Linked DNA regions of Homo sapiens: region 1 is linked to region 2. The links come from fine-mapping of genetic effects on gene expression. A gene starts in region 2. The other region holds a variant in brackets. All regions are shown on one strand. Distances are from middle to middle. Region 1 overlaps ITGB4 (integrin subunit beta 4). Region 2 holds the start of SMIM5 (small integral membrane protein 5).

What was found. PIP is the estimated chance that this variant, and not a neighbour inherited with it, causes the effect.
Region 1: its variant is the best candidate, but not a certain one, in a credible set for the expression of SMIM5 in lung (TOPMed, PIP 0.74).

The regions. Positions count from the first base shown.
Region 1 is chr17:75,724,545-75,733,051 of GRCh38, forward strand. It overlaps ITGB4 (integrin subunit beta 4), which reads left to right. Exons shown (of 40, transcript NM_000213.5): 2 at 150-238; 3 at 2,651-2,733; 4 at 2,860-2,961; 5 at 3,107-3,311; 6 at 3,833-3,929; 7 at 4,721-4,892; 8 at 5,697-5,960; 9 at 6,331-6,420; 10 at 6,702-6,824; 11 at 7,268-7,429; 12 at 7,619-7,695. The coding sequence starts at 160. Among named protein-coding and RNA genes, the nearest start is that of ITGB4, 7.3 kb to the left of the region's middle. RefSeq lists an enhancer at 3,908-4,408. The variant G/A (reference allele first, on the strand shown) is at 4,316.
Region 2 is chr17:75,630,313-75,638,312 of GRCh38, forward strand. It overlaps SMIM5 (small integral membrane protein 5), which reads left to right and starts at 3,122. Exons shown (of 3, transcript NM_001162995.3): 1 at 3,122-3,890. RECQL5 (RecQ like helicase 5) reads right to left here. Exons shown (of 20, transcript NM_004259.7): 9 at 1,138-1,356; 10 at 838-937; 11 at 662-698; 12 at 467-525; 13 at 307-380. RefSeq lists enhancers at 2,194-2,874, 2,875-3,554.

The sequences.
Region 1 (8,507 bases), 94 kb after region 2:
GCCCAGGGCCCTGCCTCTGGCGGCTGGGCGCCCTTGGTCACATTGTTGGTGCTCAGAGCCTCAGTTCCCACAGCTGTGCAGCGAGAGGAAGCTGACGGCACCGACCATGGCTGTGGAGGCCTCATGTGTCAATTGTTGCTGTTCTGCAGGAGGAAGAGGATGGCAGGGCCACGCCCCAGCCCATGGGCCAGGCTGCTCCTGGCAGCCTTGATCAGCGTCAGCCTCTCTGGGACCTTGGGTGAGTCCACGTTGCCCTGCAGCCCCCTCCTGGCAGGATCATCCCTTGGGCAGGCATTGCCCTTGCACGGGGATCTCACGGTGTCTCACCTAAACACGCTTGGCCATTCAGCAACTGACCACTGCCCACCTTCAGGGCTGGAAAACTTGAGGCTCCAAGCTCTTCAGCCTAGAGAAGCTTGAGCCCTGACCACGGGGCCTGAGAATAGGAGCGAAGGAGGCTGTGTCTAGAGGAAAGAGGAGACACCCACCCAGGACTGAGGCACCCAGAGGATGCACTGAGGCCCCAGAGGTGTAGTCAAGAGGGTTATAGGAATTTGGAGAAGAGAGGCACTGCTGACGTGTCACTTGCTCTCTGAGTGTCACTAGTGGACAAATCACTGGAGCCAGCTCCTACCACTTGAATTTTGTCTGTTAGAGGGGGTCCTGCTGGTGGCTTGAAATAGACCACGACAGAAATGTTTACACCACAGAAATTGGCAAACGCTACACGTCAAGCACCAGAGACCAGAGCCGTTGTTATTTTTTTATTTAATTCAATGTATATGTAGAAACATGCTCTCACTCTGTCGTCCCGGTGAAATGCAGTGATGCCATCGTGGCTCACTGCAGCCTCAACTTCCCAGGCTCAAGCAATCCTCCCACCTTAGCCTCCCATGTAGCTAGGACCACAGGCATGCACCACCATGCCTGGCTAATTAAAAACAATTTTTTTGTAGAGACAGTCTCACTATGTTACCCAGGCTGGTCTCAAACTCCTGAGCTTAAGCAATCTTCCTACCTCGGCTTCCCAAAGTGCTGGGATTACAGGTGTGAGCCATCGCACTGGCCACCACAGCCATTGTTAAACACTGACCAGCACACCATTGCCTGAAGCCCAGGAGACCTCTTACTGTGTACACCAGGTGCACACAGTAGGTCCTCACTGTGATTTTTAACTGAGCAGAGCCAAAGGGAAATCTAGAGTTTTACTTCATTCGTTACTGAGGACCCACTGTGTGCCAGGTGTGCCGGGTGCTAGGGCTACCGTGATAAACAAGACACCATTCCCTTCACCCTAGAAGGGGCTCAGAGGACAGACAGGCCATGTGGCAGTGGTCTCGCCGTGAGGCACAAGCTGTGATGGAGGAGGTACCTGAAAAGGGTGCTAGGTGCAGCTCATCAAAGGTAATGGGGAAGGCTGAGGACCGTCTGGCTGGACCTGAGGAGGCAGCAGGCCAGGGGGTGGCCAGGGTGTGCCAGCACCGAGTGTGCCAGTGCCACTGTCTCAGTCCCCACCTTCTGTCCTTCTGGCTTGAGTGGGAAGTCCCAGGTTTGAAATCACAGCTTGTTTCTAGCTGTGCTACCTGGGGCAGATCACATACCCCTGGCCTCTGTAAAATAGGGAACGGCTGGGTGCAGTGGCTCACGCCTATAATTCCCAGCACTTTGGGAGGCCAAGGTGGGAGGATCTCCTGAACCCAGGAATATGAGACCATCCTGAGCAACATAGGGAGCCCCTGTCTCTACATAAAATAAAAAATTAGCTGGGCTACTTGGGAGGCTGAGGTGGGAGGATTGCCTGAGCCCAGGATGTCGAGACTGCAGTGAGCTGTGATCATGCCACTGCACTCCAGCCTGGGCGACACAGCAAGACCGTATCTCAAAACTAAATAAAATTGAAATGCAGGTTGGGCACAGTAGCTCACGCCTGTAATCCCAGCACTTTGGGAGGCTGAGGCGGGCAGATGATTTGAGGTCAGGAGTTCGAGACCAGCCTAGCCAACATGGTGGAACCCCATCTCTACTAAAAATACAAAAATTAGCCAGGCATGGTGGTGCCCACCCATTATCCCAGCTACTCGGGAGGCTGAGGCAGGAGAATCACTTGAACCTGGGAGGCGGAGGTTGAAGTGAGCTGAGATCGCACCACTGCACTCCAGCCTGGGCAACAGAGCAAGACTCGTCTGAAAAATAAAGTAAAACAAAATAAAAATACAACAACAACAACAAACCAAAATAAATACATAAGGCCGGGCCCGGTGGCTCCCACCTGTAATCCCAGCACTTTGGAAGGCCAAGGCGGGTGGATCACAAGGTCAGGAGATCGAGACCATCCTGGCTAACACGGTGAAACCCTGTCTCTACTAAAAATACAAAAAATTAGCCGGGCGTGGTGGCGGGCGCCTGTAGTCTCAGCTACTCCAGAGGCTGAGGTGGGAGAATGGCGTGAACACGGGTGGTGGAGCTTGCAGTGAGCCAGGATCACGCCACTGCACTCCAGCCTGGGCAACAGAGCGAGACTCTGTCTCAAAATAAATAAATAAATAACATAAGGAGGGAATCCCCATCTCTCCAGGTGAAGGTGCAGGTGGGAAAGTGCTTGCCTTTGCTGAGCGCCTCCCCATTCATGTGCCCACATCTGTCCCCCCAGCAAACCGCTGCAAGAAGGCCCCAGTGAAGAGCTGCACGGAGTGTGTCCGTGTGGATAAGGACTGCGCCTACTGCACAGACGAGGTGAGGACCTGGCCCGGGTTGGTGTGGAACAGGCAAGGGTCGGGAATAGCTGGTGGAAATGAATCTAGGGTTGGGGCAGCCAGGGAATGGGTGCTGCCCCCAGTGACCCCCTGTCCTTCTGGCCAGATGTTCAGGGACCGGCGCTGCAACACCCAGGCGGAGCTGCTGGCCGCGGGCTGCCAGCGGGAGAGCATCGTGGTCATGGAGAGCAGCTTCCAAATCACAGAGGTGCCTGGTGTGGGGACTGGGGTGGGGGCTCCCCATGCTCAGCCTGGCTATTTATGGGGGTGTATAGTGCCCCTTGGCCGGGCTGGGCCCCCATCGGGCCTCCGGAGTGACCCTCTAGCCAGCTGTCCCCTTCCACTGGCTGCAGGAGACCCAGATTGACACCACCCTGCGGCGCAGCCAGATGTCCCCCCAAGGCCTGCGGGTCCGTCTGCGGCCCGGTGAGGAGCGGCATTTTGAGCTGGAGGTGTTTGAGCCACTGGAGAGCCCCGTGGACCTGTACATCCTCATGGACTTCTCCAACTCCATGTCCGATGATCTGGACAACCTCAAGAAGATGGGGCAGAACCTGGGTACGGCAGGGCCAGAGTGGAGGACAGCAGGGCAGGAGGGGGACAGGTGGGCGTCTGCTTGGGAGGCCAGGACTCAGGACAGCTGCACCCACCCAGAAGGAAACACTGGACATTTGAGCCCCCAAAAACCTTCCCTTCCATTCTCAAGGGAAGAATCTCGGTCAGACCCTACTCACCACTGGGGACTTCTGAGAAGGCCCAGGGCAGGCGGGCAGTGGAGCCATCTGGCCCTGACAAGGAGGGCACCCCCTGCCACGAGGCTGTGGGGAAGCTTCTGCTCCTCAGAGCTGGGCTGCATTCCCAGCCACCCTGCCCTTGCTGTACGCATAACTCCAGACCCCCAGTCCCATTTCCCTCATCCATAAATAGGAACAGACAATGTTGTGAGCATGAACCTTTGTCCAGCATGCAAAGCGTTAACCTCCCTCTTCCTCCCTTCTGAGCCAGCCCTTGGTGGGGGGCCCGTGTTTATGCCAGGCATCAGGGCTCAGCTATCCCCTCTCTGTCCTTTTGACATCCAGCTCGGGTCCTGAGCCAGCTCACCAGCGACTACACTATTGGATTTGGCAAGTTTGTGGACAAAGTCAGCGTCCCGCAGACGGACATGAGGCCTGAGAAGTAAGTGACTGTGTGGGTCCCGCAGGTGGGCAAGGGTCCAGGCCATGTGACCCCCACTCCTCTTTCACCCACAACTTAAAATTATCCTTCTACGGCTGGGCACGGTGGCTCATGCCTGTAATCCCAGCACTTTGGGAGACCAGGGCGGGCAGATCACCTGAGGTCAGAAGTTCAAGACCAGCCTGGGCAACATGGCAAAACCCCATCTCTACTAAAAAATACAAAAATTGGCTGGGCGCGGTGGTTCACGCCTGTAATCCTAGCACTTTGGGAGGCCAAGGCGGGTGGATCACGAGGTCAGGAGATCGAGACCATCCTGGCTAACACGGTGAAACCCCGTCTCTACTAAAAATACAAAAGATTAGCCAGGCGTGATGGTGGGCACC[G/A]GTAGTCCCAGCTACTCGGGAGGCTGAGGCAGGAGAATGGCGTGAACCCGGGAGGCGGAGCTTGCAATGAGCCAGGATTGCGCCACTGCACTCCAGCCTGGGCGACAGAATGAGACTCTGTCTCAACAAAAAAAAAAAAAAAAAAAAAATTAGCCAGGTGTGGTGGTGGGCGCCTGTAATTCCAGCTACTTGGGAGGCTGAGGCAGGAGAATCACTTGAACCCAGGAGGCAGAGGTTGCAGTGAGCCAAGATCGTGCATACCGCACACCAGCCTGGGTGATAAAGCGAGACTTGGTCTCAAAAAAAAAAAAAAAAATTCTCCTTCTAGTTGAAACGAGCCAGGGGCACTGGGGTCTGCGGCGTCTTCCCCCTGTGACACTCTCTCTCCCTCCCACCTCTGCCCAGGCTGAAGGAGCCCTGGCCCAACAGTGACCCCCCCTTCTCCTTCAAGAACGTCATCAGCCTGACAGAAGATGTGGATGAGTTCCGGAATAAACTGCAGGGAGAGCGGATCTCAGGCAACCTGGATGCTCCTGAGGGCGGCTTCGATGCCATCCTGCAGACAGCTGTGTGCACGGTGGGCACTGGGAAGGGTGCTGCCAGCCTAGGCCAGGGGTGAGCACTTCTGGGCAAGGGCCTGAGCTGCCCCCTGGCCTGCTCTGGTGCCAGGCTCACAGGCCCTGAGGGAAAGCCTGGGAGCCTGCAACCCCTTCACCCTGAGACAAGCTCAGACTCTGTGAGTAGGTCTCAGTTACAATCTGAGTTCAGATGTGCCTGGAGCCACGGTCCCCTGGCCTGAGCAGTCACAGCCTGGTTTCGTATCAGCTACCAAGGCAGACCTGGGCTTTAGCGTTCTGGAATCTTTAGTACCCTGAACCCACCAGCTGCCCAGACTCCACCTGTTCTGGGCATCCAAATAAGCCATTTCCTTTGATATGTACATCCATTTGTTCATTCTGAAAATGACATACCCATATTACTAGGTTAGAAAACAAAGAGCTAGCCAAGGCGTGGTGGCTCACACCTGTAATCCCAGCACTTTGGGAGGCCGAGGCGGGGGGATTGCTTGAATTCAGGATTTGAGACCAGCCTGGGAAACATGGCAAGACCCTGTCTCTACAGAAAACACAAAAATTAGCTGGGTGTGATGCACGCCTGTGGCCCCAGCGCCTTGCGGGGGCCGCATCTCCAGCTCCTGTTTCTCAGCGTTGTCACTCAGTCATGTGCCGTCAGATGCATCTTTCATGAGGGCACTTGCTGTGAATCCAGTGGCTTAAGCCCAGCCCCATGTTGGGACCCGCGTTCCCCGTCCTACACGACGCCGTGATGCGTGTCAGCAGGCAGCCTGCTCAGTGGGCACGCCCCGCCTTGCCTTCCCCAGAGGGACATTGGCTGGCGCCCGGACAGCACCCACCTGCTGGTCTTCTCCACCGAGTCAGCCTTCCACTATGAGGCTGATGGCGCCAACGTGCTGGCTGGCATCATGAGCCGCAACGATGAACGGTGCCACCTGGACACCACGGGCACCTACACCCAGTACAGGACACAGGACTACCCGTCGGTGCCCACCCTGGTGCGCCTGCTCGCCAAGCACAACATCATCCCCATCTTTGCTGTCACCAACTACTCCTATAGCTACTACGAGGTGCGGGGCCCAGGTCCCACGGGTGGGAGGTGGTCAAGGTAGGGGGTCCATGGAGCTTCTCAGACACCTCTCCCTCCCTCCCTCCCTCCCTCCCTCCCTTCCTCCCTTCCTCCCTCCCTCTTTTCCTCCCTTTCCTTCCTCCCTTCCCAAAGCCTTTAGACCCCCCAAAATGTGGGCCCTAGTGGGAAGGGGAGGTCATGTGCCCATCTTCCACCCCAACTCCCAAGCAGGTGGGGGCTAAGAGGGCAGGCTCTGCGACACCACAGTAGGTTCCAGGCCTCAGTTTCCCCATCCTCAAAGTGGGAAGAATCCTAGAGCTGTTCAGATTCATGGAGATGCTTAGCCTGAGACCTGGCCTTCTCTCCCGCAGAAGCTTCACACCTATTTCCCTGTCTCCTCACTGGGGGTGCTGCAGGAGGACTCGTCCAACATCGTGGAGCTGCTGGAGGAGGCCTTCAATGTGAGGGCAGCTCAGGCTCCAGAGTCTGAGCCCTTCTGGGGCAGGGCAGGAAGTGGGCAGGGTGGGCAAGAGGTGTCTTGGATCACGGTGGAGAAATGGGTCTGGGACAGACCAGTGAGGAAGGGTCTCTAGCTATCCCTGAGGCCCCGAGGGGCCACCTGGGCCTGGCCCTGGCTCCTGCAGGCTCTGTGATACCCCGCATGATGCCAGCCACACTTGGAGGTTGGGGTGGAGCACAGAGGCCCCCCACAGAGCACTGATCAACCTCCTTCCTCCTTTAGCGGATCCGCTCCAACCTGGACATCCGGGCCCTAGACAGCCCCCGAGGCCTTCGGACAGAGGTCACCTCCAAGATGTTCCAGAAGACGAGGACTGGGTCCTTTCACATCCGGCGGGGGGAAGTGGTACGCCTCTGTGGGGGCAGCGGGGTGGGGGATAGGCACAGCGCCCCACACCGAGTGGAATCGTTTAAAACAGCGGTCAAGAGCGTGGCCCCTGGAGTCAGGCAGGCCTGGGTGCAGATCCCTGGGCCTAGCCGCTCGGATGAGCCTAGGTTGCTCCTCTGCTTGTTGGTTTCCTCGGCATGCAAGCGTCGAGCCCGGAGGCTTGCTGGGGCAGTAAATGGGTTAGTGTCACGAAGCCCAGAGGCCCTGGCCACTGTCATTGTCGCTATGATTGTGACTGCGCTGGGAAGGAGGGAGTTTCCAGCCCTGAGGGAGGTGAGCAGGAGCTCATTTCAGGGATCCAGACATCTCCTAGGAACTTGGGGGCCGAGGGCCTTCAGGCATCGATGGCCCCCTGGTCCTTGGGGCTGGGCCTGCCTTGGCTGACCACGGGGCCCCTGCAGGGTATATACCAGGTGCAGCTGCGGGCCCTTGAGCACGTGGATGGGACGCACGTGTGCCAGCTGCCGGAGGACCAGAAGGGCAACATCCATCTGAAACCTTCCTTCTCCGACGGCCTCAAGATGGACGCGGGCATCATCTGTGATGTGTGCACCTGCGAGCTGGTACAACGCAGCCCCGCAGGGCGGGAGGGGAGAGCTGAGCCAAGCACCCAGGGACCCTGAGGAATGAAGCAGGACTCCTGTGCCCCATATCCCTTGTGGGGTTTCCCGAGGCACACAGGAGAGCGGAAGTGTCCAGTGGCCCCGGTCCTGCTCCCCCGACGCACCCCACCATGGTCTCTCTCATTCCAGCAAAAAGAGGTGCGGTCAGCTCGCTGCAGCTTCAACGGAGACTTCGTGTGCGGACAGTGTGTGTGCAGCGAGGGCTGGTGAGTGGGGAAGGGAGTTGGGCACCCAGGACACCAGTGGCCCCTGATGGGAAAGCTGGGCTCCTGCAGGGGCCTGGCCCTGGGTGCACCTTGTACACCTGGCTGGGGGTGGGGCGGCAATCAAAGAAACGGCTAAGGGCGGGGCACACCCAGTTGTTGGTCAAACCCAGGTCAAAGCACTTTGAAATACAGAGATATATGGGCTGTCTCTAGAAAGAGGTGTGAGGATTGAGACGGGGTTGGCTGTTGGGGCTGGGGTCTGGATCTTGGGGGACAGGCACACGAGGCTTCCTTTTTGCTCCATGCCTTTGGTATTCTGAGTCCTGTGTCATATTGCCTGATCAGAAGAGAGCTCGTAAATGCACGGCAGTAAGGGCTTTAGCTTCAGGACACTGGGCGAGCTTGCCACAACTTGAGGCAGAGCAGTGGGGAAAGGACACTGGAAGGGGTGACATGACAGGGCACTGGGGTTTAGGTCTCAGCTCAGCCACTTCTGTCTGCATGACTGGGAGCTGCCTCGGCCCTCTCAGAGCCTCAGTTTCCTCATCTGTAAAATGGGACAGCAGGCCAGGCGAGGTGGCTCACACCTGTAATCCCAGCACTTTGGGAGGCCGAGGTGGGTGGATCACCTGAGGTCAGGAGTTCAAGACCAGCCTGGCCAACATGGTGAAATCCCATCTCTACTAAAAATACAAAAAAGTAGCTGGGCGTGGTGGTGCATGCCTGTAATCCCAGCTACTCGGGAGGCTGAGGCAGAATTGCTTGCACCTAGAAGGCGGAGGTTGCCGTGAGCTGAGATCGCGCCACTGCAC
Region 2 (8,000 bases):
TGGGCCTGGGCTTCTCCCTGCTGAGCTCTTGCGGGACTCCAGGCCTGGTGGGGTAGGCCTTGGGCACAGGGATTCTGATTAGGGCTCTCTGAGCACCCTGTGGCTTACTGTCCCTCAGCAGCTGCTGGTAGCACCTAAGTTGTAGCCATGCCTGGCCCTGGTGGGGTTGTAGGGGCAGTCCCCTGGAGTAGGAGAGGTACAATCTGGGGAGAGGTGGCCCAAACAGGCCAGGGTTGACAGGGTCCTGCAGTCTCCAAGGGAACGAGAGCTTGGAGTGCTCCTCAGCCCAGTGATCGTGGAACTCACTCATCAGCGGTACGTGTTGACTGGCGGTTGCTGCTCAGCGCCTCCTCCAGAAGCCGCAGGCAGTGCTCCCGTGCCTGGCACAGGACAGTGAGACTGGTCGCATGGCCTCGCGGCTGGGGGAGGGCCCCGGCGGGTGGCTGAGGAGCTGCCCGTCTCTTACCTTCACAGTCAGCCTGGGGATCCTCCTGCTAGAAGCCTCTTTCAGGGGACAGTTCTCATCTGTGGGGGGGGGGGGTGGTCCTTGGTCCTTTCGCTCCACCTTCTGCGCTCTGAGGTCCCCCACAGCCCGGATGAGAATCCTCCCTCCATGCCCCGGGAAGAGCCCACAAGCCTCCAGGAACATTTCTGTACTGACCTGGGGGTACAAATTCTTCTATCTTGGGGTCTTTGCCCTGGAGGACAACATGAAGGACCCATGAGGCGTCCTGCCCTGCCGCAGGACAGTCCCATCCAGCACCAGAGAAGGGGCTGAGAGGTGCGAGCAGGGGGCCACCAGGGGCCCCACACAGGCCACTGAGTGCCTCCCCTCACCTTGCGCAGCTGCATCTGCTTCTGATAGAAGAGGTTCCACTCCCGCTTGTGGGCCTCATCTCTGCCTTCATCCCCGCTGCCTCCAGAACCTTCGTCATACCTAGGGACAGGCCAGGCGTGAGTGGCCCTGGCCTGGGCTCTGCCCTCCCCATGTGTGCTGCTGCTAGAACGGCAATGTCCCTGATGTCCTACCAGCTCAAGGGGGGATTGCGGCATCGTGCCACCTCTGGTCTGGCCCTGGCGCCAAGGGAATGCCAGGCAATTCCAGCGGGTTGGAGCCCTGGCTTCTCGGCCCCTTACCTGCTGAAGTCCCCGTAGCCCTTGCGGCCTCCCTCATACAGCTCGGGGTCAAAGCCGTTCCCCTGGGAGGGCCCGATGCAGGTCTTGCTCCAGCTGCTGCTGCGCTCCAAGGCCTCCAGCCGCCTCCGCACGGCCGTGGGGTTCTGGCAGTGGTCGCAGCCTTTGGCGCAGGCAGGCAGCGCATCCCCGAAGTACTTGGCAATGGCGGCATGGCGGCACCTGGAGCAGGCAGCACCGCAGAGGTGAGGGGCGGAGAGCCCAGTCGGCCAGCGTCTGTTCACCCGAGCCTGAATCGCTAGCTGAGCGAGCACTGCCGCGTCCGGCACCATGCCGGGAGCCCCACACCCCTCATCTCATCCAAGCTGCACCAGGCATCGTTTGGCTCTCCCCACTACACAGATGAGGACGATAAGGTGAACCAACTTTCCCAAGGTCACGTAACACATGGGGGTCTCCCGGGAAGCAGGATGTGAACCCCACTCTGTCCAGTTACTCCTCTGCTCCTCCCCTCTGTCCTCTGGCAATGGGATGTAGATGCTGGCTCTGCCATGAAGGGTGTCTTTTGGGTGACACACTTCACCTCCTAAAGCCCATGCATTCCCGTCAGTAAGATGGTGCAGAAAGGCACAGCCCTCACGGACTGAGCGAAGATGGCTGAGGTGATGTCTGAAGTGCATTACAGTACAGTCATGCCCCATGGAATGACTGCACAGCCAATGGTGGTCCCCTACGATTCTAACACTGTATTTCTACTGTACTTTTTCTATGCTTATGTGTGCTTAGATATGTGAATACCACTGTGTTACAACTGCATACGGTACTCAGGACAGTAACGTGATGTACAGGTTTGTGGTCTAGGAGCAACAAGCTGTAGCGCATGGCCTGGGTGTGTAGGAGGCTGTGCCGCTTGATATTTTTTTCCTTCTCTTCCCTGGAATTGCTGTTTGATTTCCCTAAGTATACTCTGTGACCGCACAATGACAAGTTAAATTTCTCAAAACGTATTTGCATTGCTAAGGCAGGCACGGCTGTGTAGTAATATGTCCCATCATCAACCCGTGAGGGTGTCACAGGTGGGGCCTTTAGCCAGGGAGACGCAGCCTCGCCTGGAGTCCTCCTCTCGTCTTCCTCTGTCTCAACCCTGCTGCAGCCCTCCTGGGGTGAGCGGCCTCTGCCCATGCTGGGAGCAGGGAGCAGCCTCTGGCTGGCCCACGAGGCTCTGTCGCATCTCTGTTCCCTCTGCATGGGGGTGGCTGTCGACCCTTGGGGCAGCTGCAGAGGCCGCAAGAGGGGCCATAGCTCTCTCAGGCTCCTTATAAACAGCCATTCCTGCCACCAGGAACGTGGCACAGGGTAGGGAAGCCCAAGAGGAGATGCTGGAACACAGGCAGGGCTGTCTGGGGTGCCACATCCCAGGGACAAGAATAGCTGGCATTAACTGCTCTAACTAGAACTCCTCCCAGTGTGAGCACTGCTGCGGCTGCAAGAAGCCCTTTGAGGGGCTGCGACCCCAAGGCGCAGGCTCAAGGATGCAAGGCTGATTGCAACACCCCGGTAAGGAAGCAGGGCCTGGCTGACTTTCTTTTAGCTGAGTGAATGCAGCTCTGAAGCCTGACCTGGGCTGGGACAGCCGAGGCGGCCACCAGAGGGCGCTCCTGCCCCCACTCTGCTCCAATGAGTAAATGCAACAAATGGTTCATCCCCAGGAGTCCGTGCGCCCGCACAGCGGCCGCCTGTCCAGCCTCTGGGAGGCTCTGGCATCCGAGTGGTGTGACCACATGGCTGGCTTCCTCCCCCTGCCCTCCTCAGGCCCTGACTCACTGGGGTTTTGTGCTCGGACTCAAAGAGCTCCATTGACAGCGGGGCTGGGGTCGGTTTCTCTCCACACAGCCTAGCCTGCTGGGAGGCACAACCAGGCAAATGTCACAGGGCCCGGCCCCTGGACTCTGGAGCCCTGCCCTGACAGCTGGGCCAGGAGTGCGGTCACAGCCCCAGCAGAAGGCCCTCACCTCACAAGGAACATGAGGCGCCTTGCCGGGCGCGCAGGCCACTCCCAGGTCACTCAGGATTCCAAGTTCTCCCCCAAGACGCCTTCAGATGCTGAGCGGCACAAGGGCCTCCCCAGGGACTGGTTGCAAAGCCTCCTGCTCAGCTTGAGAGGGCCACCAGCTCCCCACTGTTTACTGTTGTTCCTGAGAGAGGCCAGAGGGAGGGACCAGCCAGGGAGTGGCCAGAGGGACAGAAGGGGTGGCCTTCCTGAGGGCAGGGTGGGTGCCCCAGACCTGAGAGCGCTGCAGGACTCCCCTCCACAGGCTCAGGTGGAGCCTCCCCAGGGTCCTCCTGGCCAGGAAGGCAGAGAGCCGACTTCTTTCTTCAGCTCCCAACCCAGGCCCAGCCCACGGCGTGGGAGTCGGGGAGAGGGAGAGGAGGAGGAAGGAGGAGGAGAGAGGGAGCTTGTCTTGTCCCTGAGCAGCGCTCTCAGGGCAGAGGTGAGGCACCGGGACATGAAGTTGGAGGACAAGTTCCCAAGCAGGGCTTCCTCGGGCTCCCCCTCGCGACGGTAATTTGACACTTGGATCTCCAGGACGACCAACAACAAAAAAGCCAGGCAGAGACAGCAGCTGGCTGTCAGCAGAGGAGCTGGGCTGAGGCGCCCAGGGGAGCAGCGGCGCCCACGAAGGAAGTACGAGGACAGCACGTGGAGGCTCCGCGCTGGGGCACTGCTGCTCAGCCCCCAACACCTGAGCTCCCAGGTGAGTGGCAATGGCCACAGAAGAAGGGGGGACAGGGAGGGAGCAGCAAGGGTCCCCTGCCCCCAGGGTGAAGGGCCACAGTCTACCATAAACACGGAGAGGTCTTCGGGGACATGCTGGGTCGCTTCCCTGCAGGGAAGTCAGCCAGCCTCCTGCACACACCTGCACTCTCCCTGCTGCTGGGACCCTGCACTAGGGGAGGGCTGGGGGCTCTGCTCAGAGCGCCTCCTGCTCCGCCTGCTGTGCAGCAGAGGGGCCCCGAGGGCCTGCTTATTCTGCAAGTTCATTTCAGCTCTTTTATTCAGGGGGCTTAAAAGAGGGATTTGGCTGTCCAGCTTGGGAGAGAATGGCTGCCGGCCTGCTGAGCCTCCCTTTTTCCCAGGATTAGGGCAGAGCCCTGTCGAGGTCAGCGCAGGGTCTGCCCAGCCAGCATGCGGCGCCCCCAGGATGCAGCAGGACTCTGCCCATCTGTGTCCTTTCAGGGGCTTGGCCCACTCACTGCTGGTGTTCTCAGCTCACGGCTCAGCCTGGGTCCTCCTCCCTGGGCCCATCTAGAACCCCATAAACTCCTAGATCTCCCTCTGGTGATGAGCCTTGAACACCAAACCAGGAACCTGGAGGACTGACTTTCAACTCAGGCTCAGGTGGGCAGAAGGTCACAGAAGTGAGGCTGGGAGGGACCACGCTGGCAACCGGGACCTCTGCTGTGCCACCGTGATGCACAGGCTGACATGACACCACCCCTAAGGAAGCAGGACCCGGCTGTTTGGTTCTTTGGGGAACACTGAGAGCAGCCCTCCTGGGCAGGGCCCGTGAGCCGAGGCTGCCTACTCCTCCTGCCGCCCTGTCCTCAAGCCAGCGTTAAAGCCACCACCCCCCATATGTTTTCCTCAAAGCAAACAAGCTGGCATCTAGTGAGAAACAAAAACAATGACCCAGGGAAATGTGGAAACCAAGGACTAGCCCAAGTGTTCTCAGCTCAGCAGAGGCTGGGGGCTTCGGCTGGGGCTGGTGTCTGGGGAGACAAGCTCCTGCGGTGTTGGGAGGCGCACAGTAGGGAAGAGTCAGGCCAGGTCGGGGTCGGGGCACAGCGGTGAGCCTGGAGACCCCAGTGGCTGTCACTCACAAGACGCCCCAGGCAGGCAGGTGGGGATCCCTGTCCTGCATCCACAGGACACGAGTGGACAGGGTCTCTCCAACACAGTCCCTGAACCAGGACGGAGGGTGAATGAACAGCCAGCTTCTGTAGCTGCAGAAAGAGCGCCTACTGTTTCTAACACCAGCAGCAGAAAGCGCTTCCTCCCGCCCTGGGTGGCTACAGGAGCAGGGCCTGCCAGGGGTTCAAGCACCACTTTCTACTTCCAGTTGGAGCCAGGGCAAAAAGGGGAGTCACCCAAAGGCTCAGTGCCACAAATAGGGGCATCCCCCCCGGCTGCTCAGGCACAGGACCCTGCAAATCTCCCACAAGTGTCAGTTATGCCTCCTTCTAGGTGGACCTCAAACGAGATAATGCCCAACAGGGCAAGGGTGACTAAAACCCACCATGACGAAACAACAGGGCAGAGCAAGCAGCCCTCTGGGGCCCCGCGCTGCCAACACACCTCGCTTATCAGTCTCAAACACGCCGCCTGCTGCCAGCCCTTCCTCGTGAGGCGCCTGGGGTTGGAGTATCAGCTCTGCGAGGAGGAAACAGGGAAGCTTCGGGACCAAGTGGCAGCTGTCTGGCCTGCGGGATGCCTGCCTGTTGCAAGGCTCCGTGTGCCAGGAGATGCCACATAAAGGAATGCTTCCCATCCCTCCGGCTCTGCCAGCCTTCTCTGCCCTGAGTGTTTCCCCTGTGCTGACCGCTACTGCAGCCAGGGCACACCCTCTGAAGGCTCCAAGCAGGGCTGGCTGGGCAGCCTGGGCAGCAGGAGGGCCTGGTGGCAGCTGGGCTACACTCCCTCTTAAGGCCAGAGGGAGCCACCACTTGCTCTGGCAGCCACTCAGGAACCCCTGAGGACCCTGAGAAGCCTCCAACCAAGGCACTACTGAGCGTGGGGTTGGGAGGGACTCTGGTTGCCCTGGTTCGCAGGTGGGCACTACCAAGCGTGGGGTTGGGAGGGACTGGTTGCCCTGGTTCGCAGGTGGGAAGTGTGGTTTTGGAAGGAGTTGGGTGAACCTGAGATAGAAAGACGGGAAAAATATGGGATCATCAGTAGCCCTCCTGGGCTTCCCTGCCTTCCTCCTGCCAAACCTAGGAAGGGAAAGGGGAGGAGAGGTGGCCAGCCTCAGAGCTCCCATGTTCCCCTCGCCACAGCTGGGAACACTAAGGTTCCCTTAGGAGCAGCGGCTGGGGCACATGCCACACAGTCACCTGACGGCTGCTGGTTATATTGGGCACCAAGTGTCAGGCACTCCTTGGCCTGGCTTTAAATAGCCCGCTGGGAAGACCACCTGGGGACCGGCTGGAATGCGCCTCCTCCTCTTTAGAGAACAGGACCCCTCAGCTCCCCCACCTGCGCCATGAAGGTTCAGTCGCGGGTTTACGCTCCAAATGACAAGATATCAACTGCAAAACAAAGGGGGTCCCGGGGTTCCTCTCCAGCTCTCTGGGGGCAGAACAGCCACGTCCAACGGTCCTACTTCTGCTCACTGTGTGACAGGATACCGTGAGTACCCCTGGGTCAGACCCTGGGGCTGGGTGAGGCTGGCCATGCCTGGCTGGCAAATTCAGCTTCCAGTCAGCCCCCTAGGGAAGCCCTGGGCGCAAAGCTATGACACTGTCCACAGCCGCAGCCTGCTGCTGCTGGGAACTGACACTTTTCCCCGCTGGAGGCCGGGGTCCACCCGGCATGAGTCTGCAGCTCTCCCACTTTGCAGCCCCTGGAGGAGGCTGGCCAGAGCTTCTCAGCAACAAACCCCACTTTTCCTGCACCAGTAAATTCAGCCTCAGTCCAACCTTCCTCCTCCCTGTTCTGGTGAGCACAGCCCCAGGTCTCTCGCTCACAAGGAAAAGTGCCCCCTGCAATCTCTCCCTGGGTCTCTGGGTGTGGCACAAGCGAAAAAGCTCTCCCTGCCCGCTCCCTCTTTGAAGGAGTGTCTCTGCTGGGCTACATTAGGCCGTGTGGGCACAGTGCCAGTCAGGCTGAAAACGCCAGACCAAGTGTAGACAGAGAGGGAGGGGAGAAAGGCAGCCCAGCTCCTGAACCACGCGCAAACTGTCCCGTAAGGGACACTGTCGGCATTGTCGTCCCTCTAAGAATGAGGGAACCTGGAAAGCTGGGGCGTGAGGATGGCACGGAGGTCCCGGAACCAAGAGGGGACCACTGTCCTTGTGCAAGCCTGCTCCACCTGGCCAGAGAGAATGTCCCATTCAGTCTGACCAGAGGGTTCAGTCCTACACTCAGGCTGGCTAGACTCACAAGACCTGTACCTGTGGTGACAAGGACTCCAGGTAGTCTCAAAGAGCCTGGTGTGGCCCCGGCCTGGTGGTGATATGCTGATAAAAGCAGCTTCAGATCCACAAATGTGGGCTGGGGCTGGCCGAGCACAGCCAGCTGGCTTCCAGGGGGCTCTCGGGCCCTGGCTCCTGTACTGAGCCCACTGCACGGGCAGTACCCTCAGCGGGGCTGCTCCTGGCTATCTTGCTGGTCTAAGCTGGAGACAGGCCTCCATGGAGAGACAGCGTGGGGCACCAGTGGGGGTGCTGGCTGGGGCCCTGTCCTGCTGTGTAACCTCAGAGAAGTTGCTTGCTCTCTCGGGTCTCAGCTTCCCCACGTATAGAAGGAAGGAGGCGGGAGCGGATGATCTATAGCATTCTAGGACCCTATGCCTCTCAGTACATTTGAAAACTGAGATCCTCACCTCCACAGAAACGCACTCACTCCAGGTGAGGTGTGAGAAGCTGGGTGGATCTAACTCAGGGAACCCACGGCTTTTGACAAGAACTCATCTAATTTTCCACGGAGCCATCTTCTGCCTGCTACCCTCATCATCACTTAAAAAAACAGCTCCCCAGGCCGGGCGCAGTGGCTCACACCTGTAATCCCAACACTTTGGGAGGCCGAGGGCGGATCACCTGATGTCAGGAGTTCGAGACCAGTCTGGCTAACATGGTGAAATCCTGTT